Linked DNA regions of Homo sapiens. The protein of the gene in region 1 purifies or fractionates together with the protein of each later gene. This does not show direct contact. Each region holds a gene or a part of one and is shown in the gene's direction. Other genes may lie near its edges.

The links.
Region 2: the proteins of SLC11A1 (region 1) and WDTC1 purify together in Homo sapiens (affinity purification with mass spectrometry; one large-scale study listed by BioGRID and IntAct). This does not show direct contact.
Region 3: the proteins of SLC11A1 (region 1) and PLAGL2 purify together in Homo sapiens (affinity purification with mass spectrometry; one large-scale study listed by BioGRID and IntAct). This does not show direct contact.
Region 4: the proteins of SLC11A1 (region 1) and CHAMP1 purify together in Homo sapiens (affinity purification with mass spectrometry; one large-scale study listed by BioGRID and IntAct). This does not show direct contact.
Region 5: the proteins of SLC11A1 (region 1) and CDS2 purify together in Homo sapiens (affinity purification with mass spectrometry; one large-scale study listed by BioGRID and IntAct). This does not show direct contact.
Region 6: the proteins of SLC11A1 (region 1) and TOR1AIP2 purify together in Homo sapiens (affinity purification with mass spectrometry; one large-scale study listed by BioGRID and IntAct). This does not show direct contact.
Region 7: the proteins of SLC11A1 (region 1) and PKP2 purify together in Homo sapiens (affinity purification with mass spectrometry; one large-scale study listed by BioGRID and IntAct). This does not show direct contact.

The regions. Positions count from the first base shown.
Region 1 is NC_000002.12:218,380,767-218,385,667, forward strand, and holds the start of SLC11A1 (natural resistance-associated macrophage protein 1), read left to right. Parts: upstream 1-1,506; 5' UTR 1,507-1,602; coding exon 1,603-1,609; intron 1,610-2,193; coding exon 2,194-2,336; intron 2,337-3,476; coding exon 3,477-3,599; intron 3,600-4,380; coding exon 4,381-4,500; intron 4,501-4,680; coding exon of another isoform or gene 4,681-4,719; intron 4,720-4,901. UniProt on the Homo sapiens protein: Macrophage-specific antiporter that fluxes metal ions in either direction against a proton gradient.
Region 2 is NC_000001.11:27,293,319-27,297,791, forward strand, and holds part of WDTC1 (WD and tetratricopeptide repeats protein 1), read left to right. Parts: intron 1-703; coding exon 704-798; intron 799-1,195; coding exon 1,196-1,311; intron 1,312-3,007; coding exon 3,008-3,083; intron 3,084-3,729; coding exon 3,730-3,838; intron 3,839-4,473. UniProt on the Homo sapiens protein: May function as a substrate receptor for CUL4-DDB1 E3 ubiquitin-protein ligase complex.
Region 3 is NC_000020.11:32,200,971-32,205,443, reverse strand, and holds part of PLAGL2 (zinc finger protein PLAGL2), read left to right. Parts: intron 1-240; exon of another isoform or gene 241-350; intron 351-361; exon of another isoform or gene 362-1,964; intron 1,965-3,151; 5' UTR 3,152-3,265; coding exon 3,266-3,525; intron 3,526-4,473. UniProt on the Homo sapiens protein: Shows weak transcriptional activatory activity.
Region 4 is NC_000013.11:114,317,122-114,321,594, forward strand, and holds part of CHAMP1 (chromosome alignment-maintaining phosphoprotein 1), read left to right. Parts: intron 1-3,988; 5' UTR 3,989-4,111; intron 4,112-4,473. UniProt on the Homo sapiens protein: Required for proper alignment of chromosomes at metaphase and their accurate segregation during mitosis. Involved in the maintenance of spindle microtubules attachment to the kinetochore during sister chromatid biorientation.
Region 5 is NC_000020.11:5,195,698-5,199,360, forward strand, and holds the end of CDS2 (phosphatidate cytidylyltransferase 2), read left to right. Parts: 3' UTR 1-2,190; downstream 2,191-3,663. UniProt on the Homo sapiens protein: Catalyzes the conversion of phosphatidic acid (PA) to CDP-diacylglycerol (CDP-DAG), an essential intermediate in the synthesis of phosphatidylglycerol, cardiolipin and phosphatidylinositol.
Region 6 is NC_000001.11:179,846,124-179,850,596, reverse strand, and holds part of TOR1AIP2 (torsin-1A-interacting protein 2), read left to right. Parts: intron 1-1,722; exon of another isoform or gene 1,723-2,372; intron 2,373-2,960; coding exon 2,961-3,062; intron 3,063-3,768; coding exon 3,769-4,473. UniProt on the Homo sapiens protein: Required for endoplasmic reticulum integrity. Regulates the distribution of TOR1A between the endoplasmic reticulum and the nuclear envelope as well as induces TOR1A, TOR1B and TOR3A ATPase activity.
Region 7 is NC_000012.12:32,795,544-32,800,016, reverse strand, and holds part of PKP2 (plakophilin-2), read left to right. Parts: intron 1-3,718; coding exon 3,719-3,908; intron 3,909-4,473. UniProt on the Homo sapiens protein: A component of desmosome cell-cell junctions which are required for positive regulation of cellular adhesion.

The DNA.
Region 1 (4,901 bases):
GTGAGCCCCTCAGTTAATAGAAGAAACAGTCAAGCATGGTGGCATAGGTCTGTATTCCCAGCTACCCGAGAGGCTGAGAAGGGAGGCTCTCTTGAGCTCAAGAGTTTAAGGCTATATGCCAGGCATGGTGGCTCACACCTGTAATCCCAGCACTTTGGGAGGTTGAGGTGGGTGGATCACTTGAGACCAGGAGTTCGAGACCAGCCTGGCCAACATAGTGAAACCCCGTCTCTACTAAAAAAAATACAAAAATTGGCTGGGCACAGTGGCTCACACCTGTAATCCCAGCACTTTGGGAGACTGAGGCGGGCGGATCACAAGGTCAGGAGTTTGAGACCAGCCTGGCCAACATGGTGAAATCCCATCTCTACTAAAAATACAAAAATTAGCCAGGTGTGGTTGGCAGGTGCCTGTAATCCCAGCTACTCAGGAGGCTGAGGAAGAAGAATTACTTGAACCCAAGAGGCAGAGGTTTCGGTGAGCCAAGGTCGCGCCATTGCACTTCAGCCTGGGTGACAGAGCAAGACGCCATCTCAAAGTAAATAAATACATACATACATACATACATACAAAAAGTAGCCGGGTGTGGTGGTGCATGCCTGTAGTCCCAGCTACTCAGGAGGCTGAGGCAGGAGAATTGCTTAAACATGGAGGACAGAGGTTGCAGTGAGCTGAGATTATGCCACTGCACTCCAGTCTGGGCAACAGAGTAAGACTCTGTCTCAAAAAAAAAAAAAAAAGGAGTTTGAGGCTGCAGTAAACTAAGATGGCACCACTGCACTTCACACCTCACTCTAGCCTGGGTGACAGAGCGAGACCTTGTCTCTAAAAAAAAAAACAAAAAACGAAAAACCAAAAAAAAAAAGGGTGGGGGTGGAATAGAATAAACAACTCTGAGAAGGGACATGATCTGGTGACAATCTCAAGTGAATCAGTGGTTGAACCAGGACCAGATCCCAGTGCCCCATCTTCTGGGGACGTCCTGGGTCTGAATCTTCAATGCATGTCCCTTCTGCAGTGCCTTCCTCTGTGGCCCTCAAAGGGAAACTGAAGCCTTTGAGGACATGAAGACTCGCATTAGGCCAACGAGGGGTCTTGGAACTCCAGATCAAAGAGAATAAGAAAGACCTGACTCTGTGTGTGTGTACGTGTGTGTGTACGTGTGTGTGTGTGTGTGTGGCAGAGGGGGGTGTGGTCATGGGGTATTGACATGAATACGCAAGGGGCAGGAAGCATCTGAAATCAGAGCTAACTTGGGAGGCACAGAACACGGGGTGCCTGGAAGGGGAACAGATGTGTTGTGGGGCACAGGGCAGGCTGGGAGGGGAACAAAGGTCCACTCCATGGGTAACCAGACCCTTCCGCCAGGGCTGGCCACTTCTGCCTTTGGAAAATGTTTCACAACGCCCCATGTTGTGTGTGTGTGTGAATCGGCCGATGTGAACCGAATGTTGATGTAAGAGGCAGGGCACTCGGCTGCGGATGGGTAACAGGGCGTGGGCTGGCACACTTACTTGCACCAGTGCCCAGAGAGGGGGTGCAGGCTGAGGAGCTGCCCAGAGCACCGCTCACACTCCCAGAGTACCTGAAGTCGGCATTTCAATGACAGGTGAGTAGTGGCCCCTAGGGACAGAGCCTGATTGGGGGGTGGAGTGGAGGAGATCACTAGGCTGGTGGAGACTTGAGGAAGCAAGAAAGCCCTTGGTCCCCTGTGGAAGCCTCTGGTCCCCCGTGGGAGTCCTAGTCTAGAACACAGTTCTGGACACCAGACTCAATCTCACTGGGTGGAGTCCTTCACACCCCTAAGCGGTCTACCTTTCCTTTGTCTGAAGTCCGTGGATCAAAGCCCCTGGAGCTTTCTGGGCTGCCGGAGAAGGTGAGGGGTCCAGCCAAGGGGCAGACATGTGGCCTCAGCTTGCCCTTCTTAGAGCCTAGGGTCTCTCTGCATTCTCTGTGGCAGGAGATCTGCCTCTGGGCATCTGTCCTCACATGAGAGGACAGTAATTCTGAAGCTGCCATGTCCCACACATCTGGAATGTTTGTTTGAGAGGTGGAGGTGATGGACCCAAGATGGGGGCCAGGGACCTTAGTTTCTCCACTTTTCCGGGAGGAGGAGGGAAAGGATCAGGCGGCTTTAACTCTGGGCCACCAGAAAGAGGCAGGACACTCACCATGCTTCATGGGCCCCCACAGGTGACAAGGGTCCCCAAAGGCTAAGCGGGTCCAGCTATGGTTCCATCTCCAGCCCGACCAGCCCGACCAGCCCAGGGCCACAGCAAGCACCTCCCAGAGAGACCTACCTGAGTGAGAAGATCCCCATCCCAGACACAAAACCGGTGGGATGCTGGAAACTTCCTGGGGGCTTGCAAGATTGACAGGATCCTGAAGGATCCCATGGGCTGGAGAATGGGGTCTCCTTATGATCATGGGTGGCAAGTCCCTTCCAGGTCTGAGCAGCAGTGGTGGACAGTGGCAACTGCCCCTTCCTGCTTCCGTCCCCAGTGCTTAGCTGGGGTGCTTCAGTATTTGTCTAAAAGCGATTAAATGACTTTCTCAATGAATCTCAGCTTTCCTATGAAGGAAAAGAGGCCCAGGGGGAATTGGGATTGGAGCCTTGAGGACATGTTATAGCATTTAGGAAAGGGCATAGGGAGAAGTGAAGGAGGCTGCAGGCTGGCATCTAGCATCTAGGATGCTGTCACCTGCATTTCCAGTATCTTCTCTTTTTTTGGAGATGGAGTCTCGCTCTGTAGCCCAGGCTGGAGTGCAGTGGCGCGATCTCAGCTCACTGCAACCTCCGCTTCCCAAGTTTAAGCGATTCTCCTGCCCCGGCCTCCCGAGTAGCTGGGATTACAGGCATGCACCACCATGCCAGGCTAATTTTTGTATTTTTACTAGAGACAGGGTTTCACCATGTTGGCCAGGCTGGTCTCAAACTCCTTAGCTCAAGTGATCCACCCACCTCGGCCTTCCAAAGTGCTGGGATTACAGACACGAGCCAACGCTCCCAGCCTCCAATATCTTCAGCAGATTTCTAAGTCAATATGCCATGCTCTGGAACAGGGTGGGGGGACCATAGCCTCAGCGGACCACAGAGAGGAGGCCCCGTGGTCTGAAAAGGAGCTGGCAAGGGAGGAGCTGGGCTAGGGAAGCTTGGCCCCCTCACCCCCTTAGACAGCCCCCTGTGAGGTCTCTGAGGACCTGACAAGTCAGGGCTTGAGGGGCAGGCAGTTCAGGTGCAAGCCGGCTGCTGAGCTTAACAGATCCAGAAAAAGATCCTCTGTGACTCATCAGAGCATGCTGCTTCCTCCACCCATGCCCTCCCCATCCCTTGGGTGGCAGACCCAGGAATGGGCCATGGAGGGCAGGGCTGGGCTGATGAGCCTGTTGGGGCTCCTCTAGGGGATGGCCAAGGCCAGCTGCCACCATCCCTATACCCAGGACCCCCTCACTCTACTCCTCCCACCCCCCAACAGGGCACCTTCAGCCTGCGGAAGCTATGGGCCTTCACGGGGCCTGGCTTCCTCATGAGCATTGCTTTCCTGGACCCAGGAAACATCGAGTCAGATCTTCAGGCTGGCGCCGTGGCGGGATTCAAAGTAACTAAGTCGGGACCTGAGTGGGGACACTTTCGAGAGGGAGGTGACCAGGCTAAGTGTTGAAGGCCCCTGCTGGCCATGTTTCTCCAATGTGGCCTGGGAGCTGGTGTTAAGTTCAAATGGGCCCGAAAAGGGTCCCCAGGGCAGCCCTGCCAGAAGGTGGGGCATTTGTGTGGGGGGTAGGGGACTGGACTCCTCTCTTTAAAATATATATATGTATATTTATTTATTTATTTATTTAATTTTATTTTTTGAGACTCAGTCTCACTCGGTCACCCAGGCTGGAGTGCAGTGGCACAATCTCGGCTCACTGCAACCTCTGCCTCCCGGGTTCAAGTGATTCTCCTGCCTCAGCCTCCTGAGTAGTGCATGCCACCACGCCTGGCTAATTTTTGTATTTTTAGTAGAGATGGGGTTTCACTGTGTGGGCCAGGCTGGTCTTGAACTCCTGACCTCAAGTGATCCACCGCCTCGGCCTCCCAAAGTGCTGGGATAACAGGTGTGAGCCACCTTGCCTGGCGTAATTTATTTATTTATTTAGAGATGGGGGTCTCACTATGTTGCTCAGGCTGCTCTTGAACTCCTGGACTCAAGCAATCCTCCCACCTTAGCCTTTTAAAGTGCTGGGATTACAGGGTGAGCTACCAGCGCCCAGCCAGGATGGGACTCCATCTCTCCCACCCCCTCCCCGAGGAGTATGCTTGGTTAGAGGGTACCACGAGCTCAGGGGCTTTCTGAGGCTGGCCTCTCTGGCTGAAGGCCTCTCCCTGCCTCCTCACAGCTTCTCTGGGTGCTGCTCTGGGCCACCGTGTTGGGCTTGCTCTGCCAGCGACTGGCTGCACGTCTGGGCGTGGTGACAGGCAAGGACTTGGGCGAGGTCTGCCATCTCTACTACCCTAAGGTGAGCTTGGGGGGCCTGGACAGGGAGAACCACTGGCCCCAAACCCCAAACAGCCATTTTCAGCTTCCACGATCAAATAAATACATCATCTCACATGGGGCATCCCAAGTCTGTTTGTTTTTGTTGTTGTTTGTTTGTTTTTCAGTCGGAGTCTCGCTCCGTCGCCCAGTCAGGAGTGCAATGGTGCGATGTCAGCTCACTGCAACCTCTACCTCCCAGGTACAAGTGATTCTCCTGACTCAGCCTCTCAAGTAGCTGGGATTACAGGCGCCCACCACCATCATCGGCTAATTTTTGTATTTTTAGTAGAGCTGGGGTTTCACCATGTTGGCCAGGCTGGTCTCAAACTCCTGACCTCAGATGATCCACCCACCTCAGTCTCCCAAAGTGCTGGGATTACA
Region 2 (4,473 bases), on another chromosome or scaffold:
CTACTGGGGAGGCTGAGGCAGGAGAATGGCGTCAACCTGGGAGGCGGAGCTTGCAGTGAGCAGAGATCCTGCCACTGCACTCCAGCCTGGGTGGCAGAGTGAGACTCAGTCTCAATTAAAAAAAAAAAAAAAAAAGTATAAATTACCCATAATCTCTTACATAAATTCCTTATGATTTCCTTATATTTATTTATTCTTATAATTTCTTATATAAATCTCTTATAGTGTCTTTCTTAAAGAAATCACTGTATATAATATTTCCTGCTAGTTCTTATAACACTCAGAACCCCCACAGCACTCTCAGACCTGAGTTGCCTCTCCAGCCTGGGCTTTCCATGATTCTTGGGATGGATGCAGGAATGTCGCCTGTTTATTTTCATTCATGGGCTTGGTGACCACTGCTGCCCCTCACACACTGCATGGCTTGGAGCGGGTCTTGAACCTTAGCTTGCTTGTTTGTAAAATGGGAAAAATAAGATGGTCATGAAGACCCAGACAGCTTATAGGACCTACCTGGTAAAGCACTGTAATGTATATGTCTGTAATTGTCTAGTTGGTGGGCCTTTGGGGTTGCTTAGGTAAGGAGGAAAAATACCTCCTGTATGTCTCAGATACAAATGTAAGTTTTCGTCTAGTGAGTGTGGTCTGGTCTAGCCAGGGGCAGTGCTGTAACTTTAACCTATATGATTTTCCTTCCCACCAGAAAGAGCATGAAGCAGAGCCCTTCAGCGGGTGTGCACACCTTCTGTGACCGGCAGAAACCCCTTCCGGACGGTGCAGCCCAGTATTACGTAGCAGGTAGCGCTCAGCACAGCTCTGGCCCCAAACTCTCGGCTAGATGCTGACTCTTTTGGGGGCAGTCCAGGGAGACAGCATGGCATGGTGGTCAAGAGCAAGGGTTTTAGAGTCAGACAGACCTGAGTTTTAATCCCAACTCTGCCATTGACAAGCTATGTCACCTTCAGCAAATTACAGAAAAGAAACTCATCAAGGTTAAGTAAAATGGGGTTATAATGACTAAATGAGATAAAATATATAAAGCAACTAGCCCAGTGCATATAGTAAGGGCTCAACACTTGTAGCTGCTTTTATGCTAAAGTTGATTGGTATAATTTTTGATATGACTGACTTCACACAATCTCATGCCCCTTTGAAAGGGACTGGGACCCTAGTATGACTGGGCTATTCCCTGCAGGTCACCTGCCAGTGAAGCTTCCTGACTACAACAACCGTTTGAGAGTGCTGGTTGCCACCTATGTGACCTTCAGCCCCAATGGCACAGAGCTACTAGTCAACATGGGGGGGGAACAGGTATGTACAGCATAAGGTGGTTCTGCCCCATCACCATTCCATGCCCAGCAGCCAGGGGCATGTACCTTATGTTCACTGCTGAGGCAGACAAGACACAACAGCCTTATGGTAAATGATGTTACATTGAAATGTGGGGGTGATGTGGCATCATTGGAGTTCCCAGAGAGATGTCCTAGCTCAGTCTTTTTATTTCATTTTTTCTTAATGAACTAGATAGAAATATGATAGTATGGCATTTTGGTTAAGAATATAGGCTTTGGAATGGACAGACTTCTGTTCAAATGCTGGCCTGCTGTTCAGCAGCTGTTTACTGTGACTTTGAGCAAGTCTCTTTATTTTTCTGAGCCTCAGTTTCCTCGTCTGCTATTTTCCTAGGAGGAAATCCCTGGGGCTCAGAGCATGCAGCTCAGAGCAAGCTGTGGGTTAGTGCCAGCTTTGGGAAGTGTTCTTTGATAATGGCAGGTTGCTAAACCTTCTGTTTGTGTGCTCTCAGGATATTTAGTAAGCCTTGCATACATTTATTTACTCTACCAACACTGAGCACTTACTCTGGGACTCGCATTATTATAAATATAATAGAGACAAGTGGGAAATATGATCCATCCCCAGGCTGATGGGAGACATGACAAACGAAACAGTTAATGACATTACAAGGCAAGGCCCAAATATATACAAATGAAGCGGGATGCAGAATAGGTGAGGATAAGCCAGACATTCCTGGACCTGTCCAAGGAATCATGAAAAGCTCAGGAGTAGTGCTAGGGTAAACATTTGGCTTTGTGACCTTTGAGGACTTCTTCATCTTTTTAAACATGTGACGTGTTTTTTGTTTTTTTTTTTTGAGTTGGAGTTTCGCTCTTGTTGCCCAGGCTGGAGGGCAATGGTGCGATCTCGGCTCACTGCAACCTCCGCTCTGCCTCCTGGATTTAAGCAATTCTCCTGCCTCAGCCTTCCAAGTAGCTGGGATTACAGGCACATGCCACGCCTGGCTAATTTTGTATTTTTAGTAGAGATGGGGTTTCACGATGTTGGTCAGGCTAGTCTCGAACTCCTGACCTCAGGTGATCCGCCCACCTCACCCTCCCAAATGCTGGGATTACAGGCATTAACCACTGCACCTGACCTTCTATTTTGTTTGTTTGTTTGTTTGTTTTGAGGCAGGGTCTCATTCTGTCACCCAGGCTGGAGTGCAGTGGTACAATCTCAGGTCACTGCAGCCTCGACATCCCAGGCTCAAGTGATTCCCCCACCTCAGCCTCCTGAGTAGCTGGGACCACAGGCACACGCCACCACACCTGGCTAGTTTTTGTATTTCTTGTAAAGACGGGGTTTTGCCATGTTGCCCAAGCTGGTCTCAAACTCCTGGGCTCAAGCAACCACCCTCCTGCCTCAGCCTCCTAAAGTGCTAGGATTACAGGCTACGCCACCATGCCCAGCCAAATGTGATTCTAATTAATGATAGTATTTCAAGCAGGACTTTGGGTAGATCAGATAGCCCACCCTGAATGCTAGAGCTAGGAAGATTTTCCAGCCTGAGGTTTGCTGGAAGTACCTCTTAGGATAGCTTGATTGTTCTATGCTCAACACTCACTGTGTTCCAAGACTCTAGTTCTTGAGAAACCAAGACCTGCTTACTGGTTCAACCACATCCTTACCTCACAGCTTCCATCTCTTTTTTTGCCCCCCTCAACTCTAGGTCTATTTGTTTGACTTGACTTACAAGCAGCGGCCGTACACCTTCCTCTTGCCTAGAAAATGCCACTCCTCGGGGGGTAAGTTCTCCCTTAGGGTATCTCTACTGCGGCGGTGTAGGGGAGCTTAAGTGCATGCTACACCTGCTGAGAAGCCTGCCCTTTACTCTGGACCGTGATCCTCCAAAAATAGCAGATCTCTGAAATAACCCCACCTATGCAGTAAGAAAGAGGATGACAATAGAGCAGAGATCTCTTCAAGAGCTTTGCATCACTGCCCTTTTTGCTTCCCTCTGAAAAGACAGGTTCCTTCCATGGCTTGGCTCTTGAGAACCTGAAATAGTTCCCCTCTCCTTTGTATCCTGGCCCAGTCTTCTCATTGATTTCTTCCTGGGGCCTACAGTTGATTTAGGCACCTCCTCACTCCATTCCCACCCCCAGCCCCAGCCCTAGCCCCAGCCCCAACCCTAGCCCCAGCCCCAGCCCTAGCCCCAGCCCCAGCCCCAGCTGAGTAATGCCACGGTGAAGTTGTGTCCCTCGCCAGCCAGCAGAGGGCGCACGGGCTTTTCTTTATGTCAGAACTTGCTTTCTGGGAATGGATCTTACTCTGGGAGAACAGTCCCACGATGGAACCATCAGACCCCGTGATGGAAGCTAGAGGGCTGCCAGGAAGAAATGGGTCCTCTTCCTGAGTTGTTGCTGTCACTTTCTCACTATCTCCTGCCAGAAGTCCAGAATGGCAAGATGTCCACCAACGGTGTGTCCAACGGTGTGTCCAATGGCCTGCACCTTCATAGCAATGGCTTCCGGCTGCCGGAGAGTAGGGGACATGTCAGGTGAGGCCAGCTGGCTTGTCCAGCCCTCCAAGCCCCAGTTACACTATATGGACTGGAGGGAGGGACATAACCTGTAAATCTTCCTCCTGACCCACACCCACTCATGCATCCCAGAGAGTGAGGACCAAGGCAAAGAGCCTTCTTGGAGGGTGCCTAGTGTTTCCAGTGCCCCTCTGCCTGGCAGAACACTAGTCATGGTCAGACTGTAGCTCTAGCCTGTTGGTACCAGTAACTGGGGTCAGGACTCAGGAGCTAGCTGCCTCTTAGCACTGAGCTGTCTCCAAAAAGGGGCTGCATACAAATGGGCCTCCGCATTATATTATTCCCCATCCTATAGCATATCCTTGCCTCTTTTCTCTGCCAGCCTCTGTGCTGGGCTTTGGATACAGAGGCGCTCAAATTCCCTAGCCTTGAGAGAAATAGAGTTCTCTAGACAGCGATCCACAGGAGGGACTCGGGTGGTCATAAGGTTCAGCTCAGCATGGAGGCAGGTGGTATCAGCTACTACCATGCCCAGGAGTTGAAGTACAGCTTCATTTCTGCCCTTCTTTTCACTGGCTGAGAGTATTTGGAATGGTATTTGGAATGAAATTCCAAATGGTATTCCCTATCACAGTAATAGGTAATATCCCAGA
Region 3 (4,473 bases), on another chromosome or scaffold:
GTATAGGAAAGTGGCTCTCTGCTTAAGAGAGAACTCTGGCCCAGGAGATGGTGCCTGGAGGGAGGTAAAGTAAGGGGCTCTTTAAAGGGGATGTGCCGAGGGTTAGTTGTGAGGGAAAAGGGGAAGACTGCATTCTGGGGGAGATGTTGGGAAAGGAAGGAAACTCACTCTGAGGCCTGAGAAGTAACATTAAAGAGGAAAAAAAGAAGTACTATTCAGGCCTCATGCGGAAAAAGAGGCAGACACAGCCGAGACCTCAGAGAAGGCACTGCATGTATTCAGAGCACACATTTTGTATCAGCCACTTTCAAGAGTATTATTTCATTTAATCCTCTATACGAATCTTACAGGTAAGGAAAATAAATCCGTATTTTAGAAATTGAGGAAACTGAGGTTCAGAGAAATAAAGTAACCTGCCTATGGTTTCCCAGCCAGTAAGTGGCAGCTCTTCTGATAGCAAGTCCAAGGTTCTTTCCCCTTTCAGATCAGGCACTAGAAAGAATCTTAGGCTGAAAATATACTGAGTTGTGCCAGTAACTGGGAAGGATTGTGTTTGTTTTATGGAAACAGGTTCTGTCAGCTTCTCTATAGTCTATAGTTGTTAAGATTAAAATGTGAGACCAGAAGAGCAGCTTTGAAAGAGAAGTAGAATTCTTTCACAGTTTTGCTGAGGAAGGACAAGTCTGAAGGAACAGGCCTTCTGCTTATGTAAGACAAACCCAGGAATCTTTCTGGATCAGAGGAGTTTTCAGACAAAGGGCAGAGAGAGACTAGATCCCCAAAAGGGTTCCTAGGTAACACTAGCAGCTTTGGTTATCCAAGAGGCTGCTGGTGACTGTAGGTAGGGACTTCCTGTGCCTTTTGAAAAGTGTAGGAGAGTAGGATCAGGGTGTTGGCTCTTTTCTTTGTGAAGACATAGCCCCATTAAAAGCAGATCAAGGTGAGCACATGGCTGCTGCTTTCCTCCTTTGGTTCTATCAGTACAAGCTCCTTAGCCACCACCAGCCTCTTTCCTAGAAGCCCATTACTCACTCTTTCAGTAGCAGCCTACTAAACTATTGTGTCTTGTTTGTGCTTGTTCAGGAGAACAGATGAGGTGGACGTGTGGGAGGTGGGGACGTAATGTTCTCTTTCTGAGTTTGTGTGGAGTTTCCAGGGCTAGGCTCCTCTCTCACATCAGCCAAATTGATGTGACTTGTTTCCTTCTGGCTGCCATTCCCAACTTTCCAGAGGCTGAGGTGCATGATTTCAAATTGAAGGGGGAGTAGAATTTGACTTTGAAGGTAGGGGTAATTCCCTCCAATCTAAACATGCACACTCGAGCACACTCTCTGCTCAATTCCAAGGTGCATAGTAATTGCTGGTATTACAAACAGGTAATTCCACCCTTGCAAAGGAGGAGGGGACTTAAACAATGAAAGCCAGACGTCACAGGCCTTTGAGGTTTATAGTGAAGCAGGCACATATGCCATAATGACTTGAAGGCTCAAGTGGGACTAGTTTTTAGTGCTACCTACCCCTCCCCAGCATGTGATTCATGCAAAATGCAGCCACCTTAATGCAGATCTTTCTAGACAAATCTACACTCGTGATGGGGACGTGTTTATCATATTACATCGCAGTGTTTCTTCAACAAGAGGAATGGTTCCTGAACAGGACGTAGCTCATGTTAATGATGAGCAAAGCTCTCTGGGGCATGAACCCGCTGATCCCATCATCTTGTTCACGGCCAGTCTGTTGGATGAATGGTCACTGTAAGCAGCAGGTGCTAATGAGCTGAGCAAGCATTCTGTGGCCCACAGCTAGTTTGTGCAGTTGGAGCCCTCCCCAGATTCTCGTGGATAATCCCCAGACACCCCCTTTTCTCTCTTCACATGGAAAAGCCTCATGATCAAATTTTGGCACCATCTCTTCAAAGGGAATCCCCCTGTTGTAGCAGGTTGCATCGTGGTTGGTAATCTGTGGTAAGCTTGGGAGTATGAATGTGGGTCTCTTGTCCCCTTTTGAGAGTCAGTGTGGTAACTCCCATCCTCTTCCTCTGGATTAGTATCTGGAATGGAGTTGTGTCGTTCTTGCACATCTCCCCTTCTATTCAACAAGAGAAAGAATCAGACTTTAAGATTTCGGCTCCCCACTTGGGAATGGCTGCGAACCCAGTTTAAACCAGAACTACCTGGGCCTAGGTTGGTCCCTGAGAATCAACCTGCATTCAGTGACTAGTTTACCTATCTGAAATAAAGTTAGGGTTCCTTTTCTAGATATTAGGTATATAGAGATGAAAGAGAGATGATGCAAGCCCTCAGACAATCAGGCTGGTGGAGAGGAGTAAATTCCAATGCGAGCTCGCTACCGTCTTCTAAAGGAGATGTGCATATGTACTCTGAGGCCCTGTAGGAGGGGCCTCTCAGCACCTAGGGGTGTTGGACAGGCTTTGCTAAAGAGGGATGGTCTGGGCCCTGAGACACAGTGACCCAGAGAAGTGGTGGTGGTCAGGATGGGACCAGTTCTAGTCCTGGTTTAGGGAAAATGCTAAGAATCTGCTGTTGCCTTCCCATATAGACCCTCCTGATGTTGATGCACTGCTAAGAAACACATCTGGTACCAGGACTGACTAGGATGTAAATTTCCTAAGTAGAGGCTTCCCCTTCCTCCTCTCTTGCCTTTTGGGCATTTTATTGCTCCTTAGCACCTCCATGAGGAGGACAATTGTGGAAAGTAGTGGACGAGGAGGTGCCAGGGTAATAAGAAGGAGGAACCGCTATCTCTAGGTTCAATGGAAAGGATATAAAAGTGAGGTCCAGAAGAAAAAGTTTGAAGTTTTGGGGCTTTTGGTTCCTCAGTTTATCTTGTTTCTTATTAGCCTAGATGGTACTAGTAATAGTAGCTACCACTAAGCACTTAATGGATGCCCAGCCTTCTGCTGAATGCTTTATATTCATGATCTCATTTAATCCTCAAAACATTTTTATAATTTAGGAGATTATTATGCCCATTTTATAAATGAGGAAACAGCTCAGGGAAGTAAGTAATTGGCTGAAAGTCACACAGCTTCTAAGTGGAAGGGCTGGGATTGGAACGGGATCTGTCTGCTTCCAGAGCCCATGTTCTCATGGTATTGGGCTCCCTAACACCAGGTGTTCTGATGTTTCAGGTGAAGAGATTGTTTTCTGAAAGCTGCGTTGGAGGCTGTGACAGAGCTGAGAGCCTGTGTGGAGCGGATGGGGAGGCTTTCTCAATAACATGGCCCTTTGCCATTAGCCTTGCCATGACCACATTTTTCACCAGCGTCCCCCCCTGGATTCAAGATGCAAAGCAGGAGGAGGAAGTGGGCTGGAAACTAGTTCCCAGGCCTCGGGGCCGGGAGGCGGAGAGTCAAGTGAAGTGCCAATGTGAAATTTCGGGAACACCTTTCTCAAATGGGGAGAAGCTGAGGCCTCACAGCCTCCCGCAACCAGAGCAGAGACCATATAGCTGCCCTCAGCTGCACTGTGGCAAGGCTTTTGCTTCCAAATACAAGCTGTATAGGTAGGTGACACTCTCATATCTCTTCCTGCCCTGAGGTTCCCAGAGGGAAAAAGCAGAGAGACTCTGCCTAGTGTGGGTTTTTAATCTGTGGCAGAAGAGTGGAGGTTAATTTGTCCTACAAGTATACCCTGAATGCCAAACAGTTGAAGTCACTCACTAAAAAATGATTCAGATTGCTTGATTCAGACACTAGAATCTGATGGGTTGCCTCCCCAAAGTATTGGGATTGCTGGCGTGAGCCACTGCACCTGGCCTTCTTACACCTTCTTAGTGACGATCTGGGTGCCAATGTCAGGCAGCCTTGAGTTTTGTTTGTTTGTTTGTTTGTTTTTTTAAGAAATGGGAGTCTTGCTCTGTCATCCAGGCTAGAGTACAGTGGTGCAATCAGCTCACTGCAGCCTCCAATTCCTGGGCTCAAGTGATTCTCTTGACTCATTCTCCCAGGTAACTAGGATTACAGGCTTGAACCACCGCACCTGGTTGTTTTTAATTTTTTGTAGATATGGGGGTGTGGCTGTGTTCCCCAGGCTGGTTTCAAACTCCTGGGCTCAAGTGATCCTCCTGCCTTGGCTTCCCAAAGCAGTGAGATTACAGGCATGAGCCACCGCACTTAGCCCTGAACATTTTTTTTTAAATATTGCTTTCCTCACCTTTGTCAGGTGATGGTCAGAATTTTAGCTAGAAGTTAGGAATCAGTATTCGAACTTTAGAAGGAAAAGTAGACCTTCTGGCCCAGTCTGTAAATTTTAAAGTAGAGGTTCAGAGTAGGGACATAACTTACCCAAGGTCACACAGCTTCAGAGGTCCTGCAGTGCCTCTTCTACTGAATCAGCCTGCTACTTACTCATTTAACTATGTCTGTCTCCCTGTTGCCCACTGGGGCAGCTGCTTTTCTGAAACTTGTAAGCCCAAGAACCCCTACTTAAAGTGAAATTAAACGTAAAAGCC
Region 4 (4,473 bases), on another chromosome or scaffold:
ATTCTCCTGCCTCAGCCTCCCAGGTAGCTGGGATTATAGGTATGCACCACCACGCCCAGCTAATTTTTGTATTTTTAGTAGAGACAGGGTTTCACCATGTTGGCTGTTGGCCAGGCTGGTCACGAACTCCTGTCCTCAAATGATCCGCCTGCCTTGGCCTCCCAAAGTGTTGGGATTACAGGTGTGAGCCACTGCGCCCGCCCAGTTTATTAATTTCTTAAAGGCCAGGCATGGTAGCTCACACCTGTAATCCCAGCACTTTGAGAGGCCAAGGCAACAAGATCTCTGGAGGCCAGGAGTTCAGGACCAGCCTGGACAACATAGTGAGACCTCATCGCTACAGAAAAAAAAAATTAGCCAGATGTGGTGGCAGGTACCTATGGTCCCAGCTACTTAGGAGGCTGAGGCGGGGGGATCTCTGGAGCCCAGGAGTATGAGGCTGCAGTGAGTTGTGATGGCGTCACTGCACCAAAACCTTGGGCAACAGAGCGAGACCCTGTCTCTAAAAAAGAAAAAAAGTCCGCTAAGATAAAGAACAATGCTAGTGTGTATAGACTAATAGAACCCATTTAGCTTTGAACATGTTCTACTTATTGAATTTTAATTTAAAAAACTATGCATCAGATGTGTTTTAAAAGATGATCAGTGGTGTTCGACTTCAAAGAAGAAATTGAATGGGAGATGGGAAATAGGTATGATACACCATCTGGCATAACATTGCATTGAAGGATACTGGGTGATAGACTGGCAGAGCACCAATGATTAGAATTTAGGTTTTTTAGAGACGAGATGTAATCTGTCTCAAAGACAAAAAGAAATTTTTGTTAATCTGGACAATTCTGAGTTAATTTTTAGTTAGGGTTAGGAGTTCTTAAATTTAGGAAGAAATTTTGCTAGAACCTAAAAGCTGGAAGGACGCCCAGCTCTCTAGGCTTTGCCTAAAAGTTGAATTCTGGGACTAAATTCTGTAACATCTTCGTGGATCGTTCTGCTACTGTGGGAAAGACAGCATTTTGTTACAGCAGAGACCAGAATTGAGAAAACCAGAATAAAAAAACTGTTCCCTCTGACCTCAGTGTTGTGATCTTTGACAGGTCACTTCTTTCCCTCAGCATCAGTCTTTTCAGTTATAAAATGAAGAGGTTGAACTCAAGACCTCTGAAGATCCTTCTAGTCCTATGCTGATCATCATTTTTTTTTTTTTTTGGTTTTCTTTTTTGAGACAGGGTCTCACTCTGTCATCTAGGCTGGAGTGTAATGGTGCAGTCTTGGTTCACTGCAACTCCTGCCTCTCAGGCTCAGGCGATTTCTCTTGCCTCAGGCTCCCGAGTAGCTGGGACTATAGGTGCATTCTGCTGCACCCGGCTAATTTTTGTATGTTTTGTAGAGACGGGGTTTCGCCGTGTTGCCCAGGGTGTTCTTGAACCCCTGAGCTCAAGGGATCCACCTGCCTCAGCCTTCCAGAGTGCTGGGATTACAGGCCTGAGCCACCACACCCGGCCTGATCATCAGATTCTAATTATGGAGTACTCCTACCTGACAAAGGAACTCGTTCTAGTTCATGATAGAGTAGATTGTAAACTGTGTTAAGCCACAATTCTTTTCCTGCTAGCTTCTGATTGTCACTTCTAGGATAGCTCATATATTATCTATAATTCTTCCCCTTTTGAAGTTAAATGTCTTTATTTGTAAATGACTTTTTTTTTTTTAAAGGGCCATCTGCCATCCTGGTTGCCTTTTTTTTTTTTTTTTTTTTTTTTTTTTTAATGTTCCCTAGTTTGTTAGAGACTCTCTTAAAGTGTCCTTCCTGCCCAGAGCTGGGGACAGTGATCCACTGGAATAGTGTACTCTGCCCAGTGCAGAATATGGGATATAGTTCTCTATAGTCCTGTATTTATGCACTTGATATGTGGATTCTAAGTGTTTGTTTCATCTTGTTTATTTTGGACTATTGTACAGGCTTTAAAAGATCTTACTAAATTCCACTGTATTAGTTTGTGTATATCTACAAAGAACCTGGACAGATAGCAGAACTTTATTCTCTCATCAGATACTGATCATTTGTCTGATTTGGGCAAGCTGTTTAATGTCAAGCTTGAGTTTCCTTAACTATAAATTGAAGTTTTAAAGTAGATGATCCCTGAGGTCTTTTCCTACCCTCAAATCCTATGACTTTGAGACTAGATGGTAACTTAGGTTTCCTCTAGTTTTAAAATCCTGTGAGTCTAAGATTGAGAGAATGTTAGGATTGAACAGAGCACATACTGTGTGTCAGGGATGTGCAACGGTTCCAGAGGTGAATAAAGGGATAATAGTCCCTCCTCTCCAGGAGCTGGCATCCTGTTTTTGGTATCAGGCTGTAGTGCCAGAGGGTGACATGTACAGCTGGGGCTTCTAGGAAGATTGGGAAGAAGTGGGGAATTGACCAGTACAGTTGACTCATGAATAACAGAGGTTAGAACTTCAACCAAATGCCAATAAAAAAGAGCGTTTACAGAATGTGAAACATTTATATGGAGGGCAGATGTTTCATATATGGGAATTCCACAAGGCTGACTGTAGGACCTGAGTATGTGTGGATTTTGGCATATGGGGGAAGTCCTGGAACCAGGTCCCTGTGTTTACAGAAAGACAGCTGACTTAAAAAGCTGTCCTGCCTGAAGGATGAAGGAGTTTGCCTGATGGCCGGGTGGCAAGACAGGGAGTGTAAAGGAGAGGAAATAGTTTATACAAATGCACAGACGCTGGAATAGTCAGGGAGTTACATGTGGGCCAGTATTTTGAGAATGCAGTCTGGTCATGGGCCAGACTGTGAAGAGCTTTATATGCCATATTCAAATTGTATACTGTAGGTGTCTTAGTTGACTTGGAGGACATGTGAACAGGCAGATCACATTAGGCTTCTGTTTGGAAGACAGGTTTGGTAGCTGTACGATGAATGGGTTGGAAGAAAAGGAGACTAGTGGCAGGGAGTTCAGATGTCAGAATTAAAGCAGTGATAGGGGTAGGGGATAGAGAAGGGGTAGATGAATGTGCTGGAGCTAATCAGAAGCATAATATGAGCTGTTGTGTAGCTTGTGCATGGCCAGTTTATCACATTCTGTTCCTGTCAGCAGACTCACCCACACCATGATGCTTTATCTTTGAAATGCATGCAGGAAGAGAAGAGGGCAGAGCAATCACTGAAGCAGGTCCATGTGTTCTTCCTTGGGGTCAGGACACTGCCATCCTGCTCCTCCCAGAGTCCTTTCTTTTTGTGCCTCTTGGTCCTCTTTGTTGTGGTGTCCCTTCCTCCACTGCCTGTTAATTTGGCACTCTGCTGTGTAATATCAATAATTGACAAAAGTCAGCCATTGTTATAGTCAGTAGTCACACCAGCAGTCTTCTGAGTGCTTATCAGAGAAGTGAAGTTAGGTGGTGGGTTTGAGAAGGATTTGATTACACACACGGGCATAATTCCATAGTGGATCATTAAAGAGAAAGTAGACAAGGATGGTGTCAGGAGTGGTATCTACTGTAGTCTTTGGTGTCATTTCATAAAAGTAAGTGTTCGGGCTGGGCGCGGTGGCTCACACCTGTAATCCCAGCACTTTGGGAGGCCGAGGCGGGCGGATCACGAGGTCAGGAGATCGAGACCATCCTGGCTAACACGGTGAAACCCCGTCTCTACTAAAAATACAAAAAACTAGCCGGGCGTGGTGGCGGGCGCCTGTAGTCCCAGCTACTCAGGAGGCTGAGGCAGGAGAATGGCATGAACCCTGGAGGCGGAGCTTGCAGTGAGCCGAGATCGCGCCACTGCACTCCAGCCTGGGCGACAGAGCAAGACTCTGTCTCAAAAAAAAAAAAAGTAAGCAGGCTTAGTGGACTGGACTCCTCTCACTGTTAGGGCAGGATGGTGAGAGAAATACACAGAATTCCATTACAGGGGGCACACACGATCACAGATATAGTTTTGATTACTTTTCTTTTTTTTTTTTTTTTTTTCCAGGTTCAACTTCTCATCTTTGTTCTTCTTCATATACTATAGGCTGTTTGCTGTGGTTTAGTCAAAAAGCCATGTAGAATGCCTGCCTTTTGAAGACCACTTTTAAGGTGTCTAGTAAGACAGCAGGTAAGTCTAGTAGGGAAAGCATGCTTAGGAGAATATTTTATGAGGAGAAAATTAAAAAAAAATACCTGGAGTTCTTGAGGAAAATCTCTAAAAGTGTACACGCCCTTATGGATATAATGTGTGTTGTGTGCTAGATATACATAATTTGGGATATGAGAAGTGAATTCTGTAGCATTCTTTGTAGATTTAAGTATGAGATTGGCCTGAAGAGCTGGTGGTAGGCAGCGGGAAGAGGAGGGATGGCTGGGAGGAATGGGGAATGGTAGGTGAGTCAGACTCAAACCCAGCACACCTGAGCTCTTAGTCTCTGTTGTAATTACAATATGTAATATAGTGCTCTTTAATATTAGCTTGGCTGTTCA
Region 5 (3,663 bases), on another chromosome or scaffold:
TAGGGGATTATGTAGACTAAAAGCCTAGAAGTTCTGCCCACATCCTTATGACGCAGCCAATCTGGAGCTTCATGTTTCCTTCTAAAAGTAGTAACCGGGTAGAAGTGGGTGACCCATTGAGGACACATGATGTGAGGTATTTCTGCCGGATTCTAGGTTAGCAAAGACTCAAATGGGTGACTCATGAATGAAGGGAGAACAGGCACAGGACTTAATGAAAAGAGTTTCTTGAACTTAGTTTTCTGAATGGGGGTGGGGAGTTGGGGCACGTGTGTGTAAGGGGAGGCTGCCTCACTTTGAAGGAATGGTGTTGGCTAACAGGATCCATGAAATTCCTAGGTCAGTTGAATAATAACTGAACTACTGGTTTGACTGTGGATTATTTCCTGGGTATTAGTGGGACCCAACAGCACATTGCTATTAATAGTATGGAAATAATGGTCCCTCTGTTTCATTGAATTGCTGAAGTAATGATAATGCCATGAACCAGGAGAAGATGGTTGTGGGGGTTTCTAGGAAGCAGCTGCTGTGACAGGCCAATCCCAGGCTTGCCCCCGAGCCCTCCTGTCCTTCTGGGTTTGTGTTTGCCTTGCCTGGTGCTTCCTCCCTCATTGTGTTGTTGAATAGACCTAGGCAGCCTTGTATCCATAGAAAGCCTCCACTGCTGGGCCGGGGAGGGGGTTGTGGTAAGGGCCCTCTGGAAATCAAGCAGAGAATGCCTTTGCAGTGGTCTCCCGGGCATTGGGCAGGGCCTAGCCTTTTGCAGCCCCCAGAGGACCTTGCCTGCATAAAGCACTCAGAAGGGTTAGCCACCTGGTGATTTTGTCTCTAGTGAAACTGTGTTTGCCGATAATCATCCACATAGCCACCTCTGTCCTCGCAGTTTGGATGCCTTTTTTTGACACCTGCGCTAGGTTCTTGTATGCTGGCTTTTCTTAAAGGAACAGCAGAGTAGAAAAGAGGTTGAGAATGTTTTCTAGCAGGCAGAATGTGCATACATGTTTTCATGAGTGTCCTTTGGGTGCTGTTTCTTTTAAATCCTCTGTGCACAGGGCTCTGGCCTTTAGTAAACTGTTTTTCTGTCTTACGTCATGCTGACTGGGTGCTAGGGGCTGATTACAAAGGGGAAGAGTTGAACAGACATCAGGGGCCGATGAAACCAAAGGACTAGGAGTCAGGAGAACAAGTCAGGGATTAGGAGACAGCGGTTTGGTTTATTGTTATCCAGCTGGAGGACTCCTAGGGGCAGCAGCAGGAGGAATACCAGGGCCACGGAGGGGCCAGGAGTCTCACAGTGGAGGGCAGACTCTAACAGATGCCAGCTGAACGCTCGCTGGCCCTGGATGTCATACGAGTTGGGGACCAGAAATCTGGGCTCAGAGAACCCGTCCAGGGAGATTTGAAGCCATGGGTTATCTTCTAGAGTTGATACTGATAATATATTTTAATTTTTATTGATGTTTAATACCTTCTGAAACAGGAGGGTAAGATCAGATGGGAAGCCCCTCTGTTGAAGGATCTTGGGAACCTTGGTGGTTTTTTTTTTTTTTTTGGTTTTTTTTTTTTGATCGAGCTGTGGACATCCTTCTTAATTCGATTCTGAGGATTTGTTTAACTAAAAAGTTCCCAAACACAGAAAGGGCCTCCCCACCTGCTTTGGGGAGCTGTCTGTGCTGGGAGTGCCAGGCATCCCATGGGACCCATCACTGCCAGTGTCTGTGCCTCCCAGAGGTCAGCCGTGTCTGCCCTGGCTCTGTCTCCTCTGTGACAGGGCAGAGCATTTCTGGTCAGTTTCTCCATGGTGCCTCCCACCCCTTTGTAAAGTGGATGGACATGATGGAATTCAGTTGTCTCACCCTGATAGCCTGGGTGTTGATATTCACTTTACCCGCACTCAGACACAGGCGACCTTGAAGCAGTTCTCGGTGTGTAGAGTCCACGTGACAGTCCCCACAGCCTCCCCAGATAGCTGTGTGCCTGTGCGCTACTGCTGTGCCATTTTCCCAACTTGGCGTTTCACTAAATGCAGCTGATCTCTCTCTCTGTGCACTCGTGATCCATGTTGAACAATACATGTAGGTTCTTTTTCCACGCAATGTAAGAACATGATATACTGTACGTTGGAAAGCATTTACCTTATTTATATACCTGAATGTTCCTACTACACAAATAAACATATATTAAATTCTAGATCATGTGTGGTTTTCGATGGTGGGGGTGGCGGAAGGCCAGGGGTGTGGACGTTTGGTTGCTTATGTGGAGCCAGCATTATTTCCCAGGATGCTGCTGACCACCGCTTGCTTCTAGAGACTCCCTCTGTCCTTGGCCTTGGCAACCTGCCCCCCCGGCTTTCCTCCTGCCCTTGGTTGCTCCTCCTCGGTCTTCTTTCTGGGTGTCTCTTTTCTGGGCCATCCCTTGGGTGGTGGCATTCTGCCTGAGGCTCTCTTTCGCCCACTGAATTCTCCCCTCTAGGTGTTCCCACCCCCTCCCAGGATCCTGATCACCACACTCATTTCAACACTTCCCAAGTCCATGTCTCTAGCCCAAGTGGGCCTGCATTTCCAGCTGCCTGTGAGGCCTCTCACACAGACTTTGCATGATAAAACCCAAACCTATGACCCATGTCCTGAGTCCTGTGTTCTCTAACTACCCATGTGTTCTGTCACACAAGCCAGTAACTGGAGTGATCTCATCAGTCACCCAAGCCTGCCCGTTCTGCCTTCCAAACATCCTCGGAATCATCCTTACTGCCAGCCTTCTGGGCCAGGCCCCATCTCCTGCCAGGATTTCTAAGGCAGCCTCTAGCCCTCTCCCTACAGCCTGGCCACCTCTCTAATCCATTTCTTGCATGATAGCTGGGATGAGCTCTCTGCTTGGAACCCTTTGGGTCTTGAGGTTAAAGTTCAGACTTGGTAACGAGGCTTCTGGGGCCATCTGTGAGCTGGCCAGTGCCTGACCCACGCATTCGGGCCCTGCCTTCACAGCCACAGCTGCCGCTTGTCCTTCCTTGTTCCAGGTGTGCGCCTGTCCCGGGCCCTGGCGTGGGCCCTCTGCCCAGTTTTTTTCCTTTCCCAGCTCTTCGTCAGCCTGCCTAACTCCTCTTTTCCTAGCAGTTCTCACCGTCAACAGCACTTCCTTGGGGAGGCCTTATGTTGTCTCCTCACTGTGTGTCTCCTGCCCCAGGACAGAAGGGTCTGAACTCCTGGGAGCCAGCAGGCCAGCCTTACCAGGGCAAATGTCTGAGGCCAGTGGGACCTCTAGATTGATTACCTTTTGGACAGGGGCCTCTGCCATTTTCACCCATAGGAAAGCTACTACCATTGGAATTTCCTCAGTGAATTGCTCGCCAACATTCAAGATGCAGAAAAACCCACTGCATTCACTTACTTTCCTAAACCCCACAAAATCTGACTGCAAGCCACCAGTTTCCAAGACTGATGGGAAAACCAACATGAGTCGTTTTCCCTGGCTGCTTTGCTCCCTTTTGTTGCACCAGGAGCCGAGGGCTCACATGTTGCTGAAGTGGTGAGGGTCCCTGGGCTCAACTCCATCTGCTGAAGGCTCTGTTGTCCAGCCCTGTGAAGTCCATAGGAGGCCCTAGGCCAGTGGCGTCAGAGCACCTGTGCAGTTGCCTGCATCTGGCATCCTTCCATATCCAGAGCC
Region 6 (4,473 bases), on another chromosome or scaffold:
TTATTAACTGTTTATATTAATGTGATATGACAAAAAGGGGCATGACTTTTAAAAAATTCGCTTCTGGTTTTTTATTTCTTATGAGAATATTTCGACTTACAATTTTTAAAATCTTTTACTTTTTGGGAAACTAAATGTTACATAAATCAAGAGATGGGTATATTTAAAAATGAGCATTAATGGGACAGTATCCTTAACTCAGTCATGTTTCAGTTTTATAGGACTTTGAGTAAGACAGTTAGTTTCTCTATACGTGGTTTTTTCTGCCTATATGTTAAGAGGAACAAGCATGTCTTCCCTTATGAAGCTAAGCGTTGCAGTGTGCTAAATCCTTAACTGGAACTGGAGGTGTGAATTCTAGTTGTGGCCCTACCACTTGCTGACTTGGGAGACCTTGGGAAAATCTTCCCTTCCTGGTGCTTCAATTTCCTGTTTGTAAAATGAAGAAGTTGGACAAGATGATATCCAAACATTCTTCTAACTTTCACCTTCTGTGATTGTCTGTGTGGGTTTGTATTTTATAAGCACTCTGAAGAGCTCAGTCTGAAATGCCCATTTGCCAGTGCAAAAGAATATAAAATATAAGATGTTCTGTTCATCAGGGACTTCAGCAAGGGCTAGTAATTCATGTTTCACTGCAAATCAATGACTAATCTCAAATATATGTTTTATTTATTAATCATTAGAATAATCTGTAACTTCAGTGAAGGCAAGGACTGTGTCCTCTCATTCATTGTGTATCTCTGGCACCTGGCACATAGAAACACCTTTATGAATTTTGTCAAATGAATGAATGTGATCTGTAAGGACCATGACCTGCGTCAGAATTTCACTGTTATAAACTAGGTGCAATTACTTACACCTCTAGTCCCAGTTACTTGGGAAGCTGAGTTGGGAGGATTGCTTGAGCCCAGGAGTTCAAGCCTGCAGTGTGCTATGATCACCCCTGTGAATAGCCACTGCATTCTAGCTAGCCTGGGCAATCTAGTGAGATCCCATCTCTTAAAAAAAAATTCACTGTTAGGCAGGTTCACTGTGAGTAGAAAAAATATTGTTTAAAAAAATCTAGTTTAGGCCAAGGGTGGTGGCTCACTCCTGTGATCCTAGCACTTTGGGAGGCCAAGGCTGGTGGATCACTTGAGGCCAGGAAGACCAGCCTGGGCAACATGGCAAAAACCCATCTCTACAGAAAACACAAAAACAGCTGCATGCACCTATAGTCCTCAGGAGGCTGAGGTGGGAGGATTGCTTGAGCCCAGGAGGTTGAAGCTGTGGTGAGCCGAAATTTCAGCACTACACTCCAGCCTTGTTGACAGAGTGAGACCCTGTCTTTAAAAAAAAAAATGCAGTTTATGTATGGAAAGCAATTTAATATAGTTGAATGAGGTTATCTATACTCTAAGAGATGAGAAACTTTGTTTTCATCTCAACTTAGCTATATCTCTTTTTTTTTGTTTTTTTGAGATGGAGTCTCACTCTTTTGCCCAGGCCGGACTGCAGTGGCGCTGTCTCGGCTCACTGCAAGCTCCGCCTCCCGGATTCACGCCATTCTCCTGCCTCAGCCTCCCGAGTAGCTGGGACTACAGGCACCCGCCACCGTGCCCAACTAATTTTTTTTTTTTGTATTTTTAGTAGAGACGGGATTTCACCGTATTAGCCAGGATGGTCTCGATCTCCTGACCTTGTGATCCGCCCGCCTCGGCCTCCCAAAGTGCTGGGATTACAGGCGTGAGCCACTGCGCCCAGCCAGCTACATCTCTTTATGTGACCTTGGGCAAGATCTTTAATATCCCTGGACCTTTTTTCATGATAGGTTAAGTAATGGGGCCGGAGTAGGTGTCCATTATAGATCCTTTCAGTTCTTAGATTCTATGATATGATATTTTAAGAACCTACTCTTTGGGGTGATAGGAACAATCCTTTATAAGTGAAGATGATCCTACTCATCTATGCTAATAGAAGTACCTGGCTGGGGTTAAGCACAAATTTAGATTCTAGTGTGATTTAGCTTAGAGTGCTAAAAATTGTTGCCCTTCTTTTCACCCACATATTTTAAGCTTGGCATGCCCTCCCTACATCTGGATTTTTACATATTTCGTGAATTTTCTTCACCTTATATTCCTTGCTTTGTATATCTCCTTCACTAAGAGTTTCAAATTTGCTTCTGTAAGCTATTTTGCAACTGTACACTAATCTCTCCTATCTTAGAACTTAGTGCCTCTGTTATTTTTATATTCGGGGTCTTGAGGAACCATGTGAAACTCGAACACTGGAATTAGAGCACAATTACCCTGTGAAGTTGAATCTTGTGTACAGCCAACATTTCTTAAATCCCTTCTTGATTTTATACATTTTGCTGAATTACATTTTAGGTAAGTTTGGCCGCACTATTTAAATGTCTTTGTCTTTGATATAAGAGGCAGTAAGGAATTGTGAATATAGCAACATTATCCTTGAATGAATTTCACAGTATTTCATTTTATCCTTCTAAGTAGAATAAAAGTAATAGTCTTAAAGAAAAGACAGGAAAAATGTTAACTTTGGTTTTTTTTTTTTTTTTTTCTGAGATGGAGTCTTGCTCTGTCCCCCAGGCTGGAGTGCAGTGGCACGATGTCGGCTCACTGCAACCTCCACCTCCCAGGTTCAAGCGATTCTCCTGCCTCAGCCTCCCACGTAGCTGGGATTACAGGCGCCCGCCATCATGCCCGATAATTTTTGTATTTTTAGTAGAGACAGGGTTTCACCTTGTTGGCCATGCTGGTCTCAAACTCCTGACCCCAAGTGAGCCACCTGTTTCAGCCTCCCAAAGTGCTGGGATTACAGGCATGAGCCACCGTACCTGGCCAAGGTATAGAAAGCCTTTTAGTCAAATCATTCTTTGGTTTGGTGAGAGATATAAAGGTATACATACTGTCATTAGTGTACTGCCTAAAAATAATATTGATTCTTTTCCTCTCCAGAGGCTGGAAGTCATCCACAACAAACACAAAAATTGGAAGAAATTAAAGAGAATGCACAGGACACCATGAGACAGATTAATAAAAAGGGTTTTTGGAGCTATGGTGAGAACAAACCTGGTTTTACTGCAGTGTTGATTCACTTTCAGAAATCCTCAGTGAAAATGCCTAGAAAACTAGCAGATTTAAACAGTTTTAACATTGTGTTTATATATACTTATTTAATGATTGGTAGTGAGACATAGTAAAATAGTACACTAGAGTTTTAGGGATTTTTCCCTTACGGGTGCTGGCTGATATTTTGCTGTGCTTAACAAAATGGAATTTCTCACAATAGGAAAGGCTTTTCCTAAACAAGAAACAAAAACTGCCTTTCTAATTAGAGAATATTAATTTTTCAAGTGCACTTTAAAGTTATGACTCCTAAAAAAATGGTCGGCTATAGGTAGTAGGTGCATTGAGAAGATGAAAAAAAATCTTGATCACTCATGTCTAAATTACATCATTAGTTATAATAACAAATACATAGACTCAGCTTTTACCTTTTATTTTTAAAAATTTTTTACCGAGTACTTAACTCTTCCACGTAGCTTTTATCTTTTAACAGATATATCTTCAAATAATTAAATCTGAGAAGAGATTAGAGAAAAGGTACTTCTGGTGGATTGAAAGTTTAAACAATTTATGCAAAAGAAACTTATTGCTCCTAGTAAAACCTGCTGGTATCTCTGCCTCATTTCAGTTTACCACAGGCTTTGTTTCTGGCTCGTGTTCTCTGTAATTTTCTATTCCTTTTTCATTCTTTTGACAGGCCCTGTGATTCTTGTCGTCCTGGTTGTGGCTGTTGTGGCAAGTTCTGTGAATAGCTACTATTCCTCTCCAGCCCAGCAAGTGCCCAAAAATCCAGCTTTGGAGGCCTTTTTGGCCCAGTTTAGCCAATTGGAAGATAAATTTCCAGGCCAGAGTTCCTTCCTGTGGCAGAGAGGACGGAAGTTTCTCCAGAAGCACCTCAATGCTTCCAACCCCACTGAGCCAGCCACCATCATATTTACAGCAGCTCGGGAGGGAAGAGAGACCCTGAAGTGCCTGAGCCACCATGTTGCAGATGCCTACACCTCTTCCCAGAAAGTCTCTCCCATTCAGATTGATGGGGCTGGAAGGACCTGGCAGGACAGTGACACGGTCAAGCTGTTGGTTGACCTGGAGCTGAGCTATGGGTTTGAGAATGGCCAGAAGGCTGCTGTGGTACACCACTTCGAATCCTTCCCTGCCGGCTCCACTTTGATCTTCTATAAGTATTGTGATCATGAGAATGCTGCCTTTAAAGATGTGGCCCTGGTCCTGACTGTTCTGCTAGAGGAGGAAACATTAGAAGCAAGTGTAGGCCCAAGGGAAACGGAAGAAAAAGTGAGAGACTTACTCTGGGCCAAGTTTACCAACTCTGACACTCCCACCTCCTTCAACCACATGGACTCAGACAAATTGAGTGGGCTGTGGAGCCGAATTTCACACCTGG
Region 7 (4,473 bases), on another chromosome or scaffold:
TTTAAGCACAAGTTCACATTGACCAAAATATGTACCATAGGACAAGTTCCAGTGGATTTATCAAATATTAACACCTTTTAAGAATTTTCAATAGATTTTTGGGTACAGGTGGTGTTCAGTTACATGCAAAAGTTATTTAGTGATTATTTCTGAAATGTTGGTGCACATGTCACCTGAGCAGTGTACACTGTACCCAATGTGTAGTCTTTTATCCCTCACCCCTTCCTACCTTTCCCCCAAGTCCCCAAAATCCATTATATAACTCTTGTTCCTTTGCATCCTCATAGCTTAGCTCTCACTTATAAGTGAGAACATCCAATATTTGGTTTTCCATTCCTGAGTTATTTCACTTAGAATAGTGGTCTCTAATTCCATCCAATTTGCCGCAAAGGCCATTATGTCTTTCTTTTTAATGGCTGAGTAGTATTCCATGGTGTGTATATACCACATTTCCTGTATCCACTCGTTGGTTGATGGGCATTTAGGTTGGCTCCATATTTTGCAATTGTGAATTGTGCTGCTATAAACATGCATGTACAAGTGTCTTTTTCATATAATGACTTCTTTTCCTTTGGGTAGATACCCAGTAGTGGTATTGCTGGATCAAATGGTAGTTCTACTTTTAGTTCTTTAAGGAATCTCTATACTGTTTTCCATAGTGGTTGTACTAGTTTACATTCCCACCAGCAGTGTAGAAGTGTTCCCTTTTCACCATATCCATGCCAACATCTATTAAATTTTGATTTTTAAATTATGGTCATTCTTGCAGGAGTAAGGTGGTATCTCATTGTGCTTTTAATTTGCATTTCCATGATAATTAGTGATGTTGAGCATTTTTTCATATGTATGAGGCGTATCAAAAAATTTTTCTTATGCCATTTGTATATCTTCTTTTGAGAATTGTCTATTCATGTCCTTAGCCCACTTTTTGATGGAATTATTTGGCTTTTTTCTTGCTTTTTTGAGATCCTTGTAGATTCTGGATATTAGTCCTTTGTCGAATGCAGTTTGTGAATATTTTCTCCCACTCTGTGGGGTGTCTGTTTACTCTGCTGATTATTTATTTTGCTGTGCAGAAGCTTTTTAGTTTAATTGGATCCCATTTACTTATTTTTGGTTTTGTTGCATTTGCTTTTGGGTTCTTGGTCATGAACTCTTTGCCTAAGCCAATGTCTAGAAGAGTTTTTCCAGTGTTATCTTCTAGAATTTTTATGGTTTCAGGTCTCAGATTTAATCTTTGATCCATCTTGAGTTGATTTTTGTATAAAGTGAGAGATGAGGATCCAGCTTTATTCTTTTACATGTGGCTTGCCAATTATCCCAGCATCATTTGTTGAATATGTTGAATAGGGTGGCCTTTCCCCACTTAATGTTTTTGTTTGCTTTGTCAAAGATCAGTTGGCTGTAAGTATTTTGCTTTATTTCTGGGTTTTCTATTCTATTCCATTGGTCTATGTATCTTTTTTATTTTCTATAGCCTAATTGTGAAAGTGGCATGTCTATTTTTTTAATACCTTTCTTGTTAGTACAAAAAAAAAAAGCCAAACTCAAAACTTATAACCAAGAAGTTATATACATAGTAGAAAAGTACATTTAAAATAGTTTATTTCTCTTTTTAAAATAGTAGGCCAGGCGCAGTGGCTCACGCCTGTAATCCCAGCAGTTTGGGAGGCTGAGGCGGGCAGATCACCTGAGGTCAGGAGTTCGAGACCAGCCTCAACATGGAGAAACCCCATCTCTACTGAAAAAAAAAATATACAAAAAATTAGCCGGGCATGGTGGTGCGTACCTGTAATCCTAGCTACTCGGGAGGCTGAGGCAGGAGAATTGCTTGAACCTGGGAGGCGGAGGTTGCAGTGAGATGAGATCGTGCCATTGCACTCCAGCCTGGGCAACAAGAGCGAAACTCCATCTCCAAAAAAAAAAAAAAAACAAGAGTAGTATTACTTATGTATTGGAAAAACCTTGGGAAGCAAAGATTATTCGTTTATTATTTATTTACTATTTAATTTTACTTTTTAAAATAGAGACGGGGTCTCATTATATTTTCCAGACTGGTCTCAAACTCCTGGGCTCAAGTGATCCTCCTGTCTCGGCCTTCTAAAGTGCTGGGATTACAGACATGAGCTACCTTGCCTGGCCTTAAAAATGATTTTAGCTTGGCCAGGCGCGGTAGCTCACGCTTCTAATCCCAGCACTTTGGGAGGCCCAGGCGGGCGGATCACAAGATCAGGAGATCAAGATCATCCTGGCTAACAAGGTGAAACCCCGTCTCTACTAAAAATACAAAAAAATTAGCCCGGCGTGGTGGCGGGCACCTGTAATCCCAGCTACTCGGGAGGCTGAGGCAGGAGAATGGCATGAACCCGGGAGGCGGAGCTTGCAGAGAGCCGAGATCGCGCCACTGCACTCCAGCCTGGGTGACAGAGCAAGACTCTGTTTCAAAAAAAAAAAAAGATTTTAGTTCACTATTAATATTGTTGTAGAAAAACAGCTCCTATTAACATTTTTCCTCAGGTTTCTTACGTGGGTTTTTTGGTAATAGTATGTATTCTTTTTTTTTTTTTTTTTGAGACAGGGTCTCTCTCTGTTGCCCAGGCTGGAGAATAGTGGCGTGATCTCTGCCCACTGCCACTTCTGCCTCCCAAGCTCAAGCAATTCTTGTGCCTCAGCCTCCTGAGTAGCAGGGACTACAGGCACAGGCATGTGCCACTACGCCCAGCTAATTTTTGTATTTTTAATAGAGACAGGGTTTCACCATGTTGGCCAGGCTGGTCCTGAACTCCTGACCTTAAGTGATCCACCCACCTCAGCCTCCCAAAGTGCTGGGATTACAGGTGTGAGCCACCGAACCTGGCCAATAATATTATGTATTATTTATATAAATATACTGATTTTTCACATACACTATTAACATAATTATTTTCTTTTTATTATACATGCTTCATAGATAGGTTTTGTGATGAATAATAGTCTTTGCAGGTGTGTTTTAGTTAATCATAGTCCTATTATAAGGATATTCAGGCTTTTTAGTTTTTCAGTTACATGTAGTACTGTCATAAAGATCTCTGTAGAAAGCTTTTTTCATTTTCAAAGTGATATTTTTAAGATGTATTCCTAGACATGGAATTACCGAATTGAAGAAGATGAAAATGTTTTAAGTTCTTGACATTTCTGCCAAATTACACTCTGAAAAGATTTTCAATATACTGAGCACAGAGTATCCTCTTTTCAAATATTTTTAAAAATTTGTTATTAGGGAAATTACATCTTTCCATGTGTTGTTAACCAGCTGTGTTTCTTTTTAAGAAAGTTCTTGGCCGGGCGCAGTGTCTCACGCCTGTAATCCCAGCACTTTGGGAGGCCGAGGCTGGCGGATCACGAGGTCAGGAGATCGAGACCATCCTGGCTAACACGGTGAAACTCCGTCTCTACTGAAAATAAAAAAAAATAAAAAAATAAAAAAATTAGCCAGGCGTGGTGGCGGGTGCCTGTAGTCCCAACTACTCGGGAGGCTGAGGCAAGAGAATGGCGTGAACCCGGGAGGCAGAGCTTGCAGTGAGCCAAGATGGTGCCACTGCACTCCAGCCTGGGCAACAGAGCAAGATTCCGTCTCAAAAAAAGAAAAAGAATGTTCTTCACCCAAAATATATTGGGATCTTGGGATTAAGAAACAATCTTTTTAATCAAGTGTTTTGTTTTTTTTTTCATTTTGTAGCCAAAGAAACTCTCCCTGATTTGGTTTCCATCATTCCTGACACAGTCCCGAGTACTGACCTTCTCATTGAAACTACAGCCTCTGCCTGTTACACATTGAACAACATAATCCAAAACAGTTACCAGAATGCACGCGACCTTCTAAACACCGGGGGCATCCAGAAAATTATGGCCATTAGTGCAGGCGATGCGTAAGTCCTTCAGTTCTGCCCGTCAGCTGCCTCCCTTTCCCCTCACCAGCCTGTGTGTAAATAATCCGGTTGTGAATGTGCGGTCATGACCATCATGTGCAACATGGCAGCAAACAGGATGTAAAGCCAGGCCAGATCATCTGGTCAGCCCTCAGTGATCAGCCAAGGAAAGAACTGAATCCACCACACCACATGCTTGTCCCTTCTCTTCTAAAGTATCAACAGAGGGTCAGACTCCAGAACTTCTCTTGGTTGTGCATTCCAGCATTGTATTGGCCTAATGAATTAGTTTCCCAAAGCCACAGCTGTGATTTAATAACAGCAGAATGTAGGCAAAGCAGGAGTCCTCTGAATAGGCAAGTGCCCTTTTCCTCACTTCCATCTTAGGAGGGGATGTCACACCAGGTGGTTTAGAAGAAGCAGTGATGGGCTGGGCACAGTGGCTCATGCCTGTAATCCCAGCACTTTGGGAGGCCCAAGCAGATGGATCACTTGAGGTCAGAAGTTCGAGACCAGCCTGGCCGACATGGCAAAACCCTGTCTCTAGTAAAAATACAAAAATTAG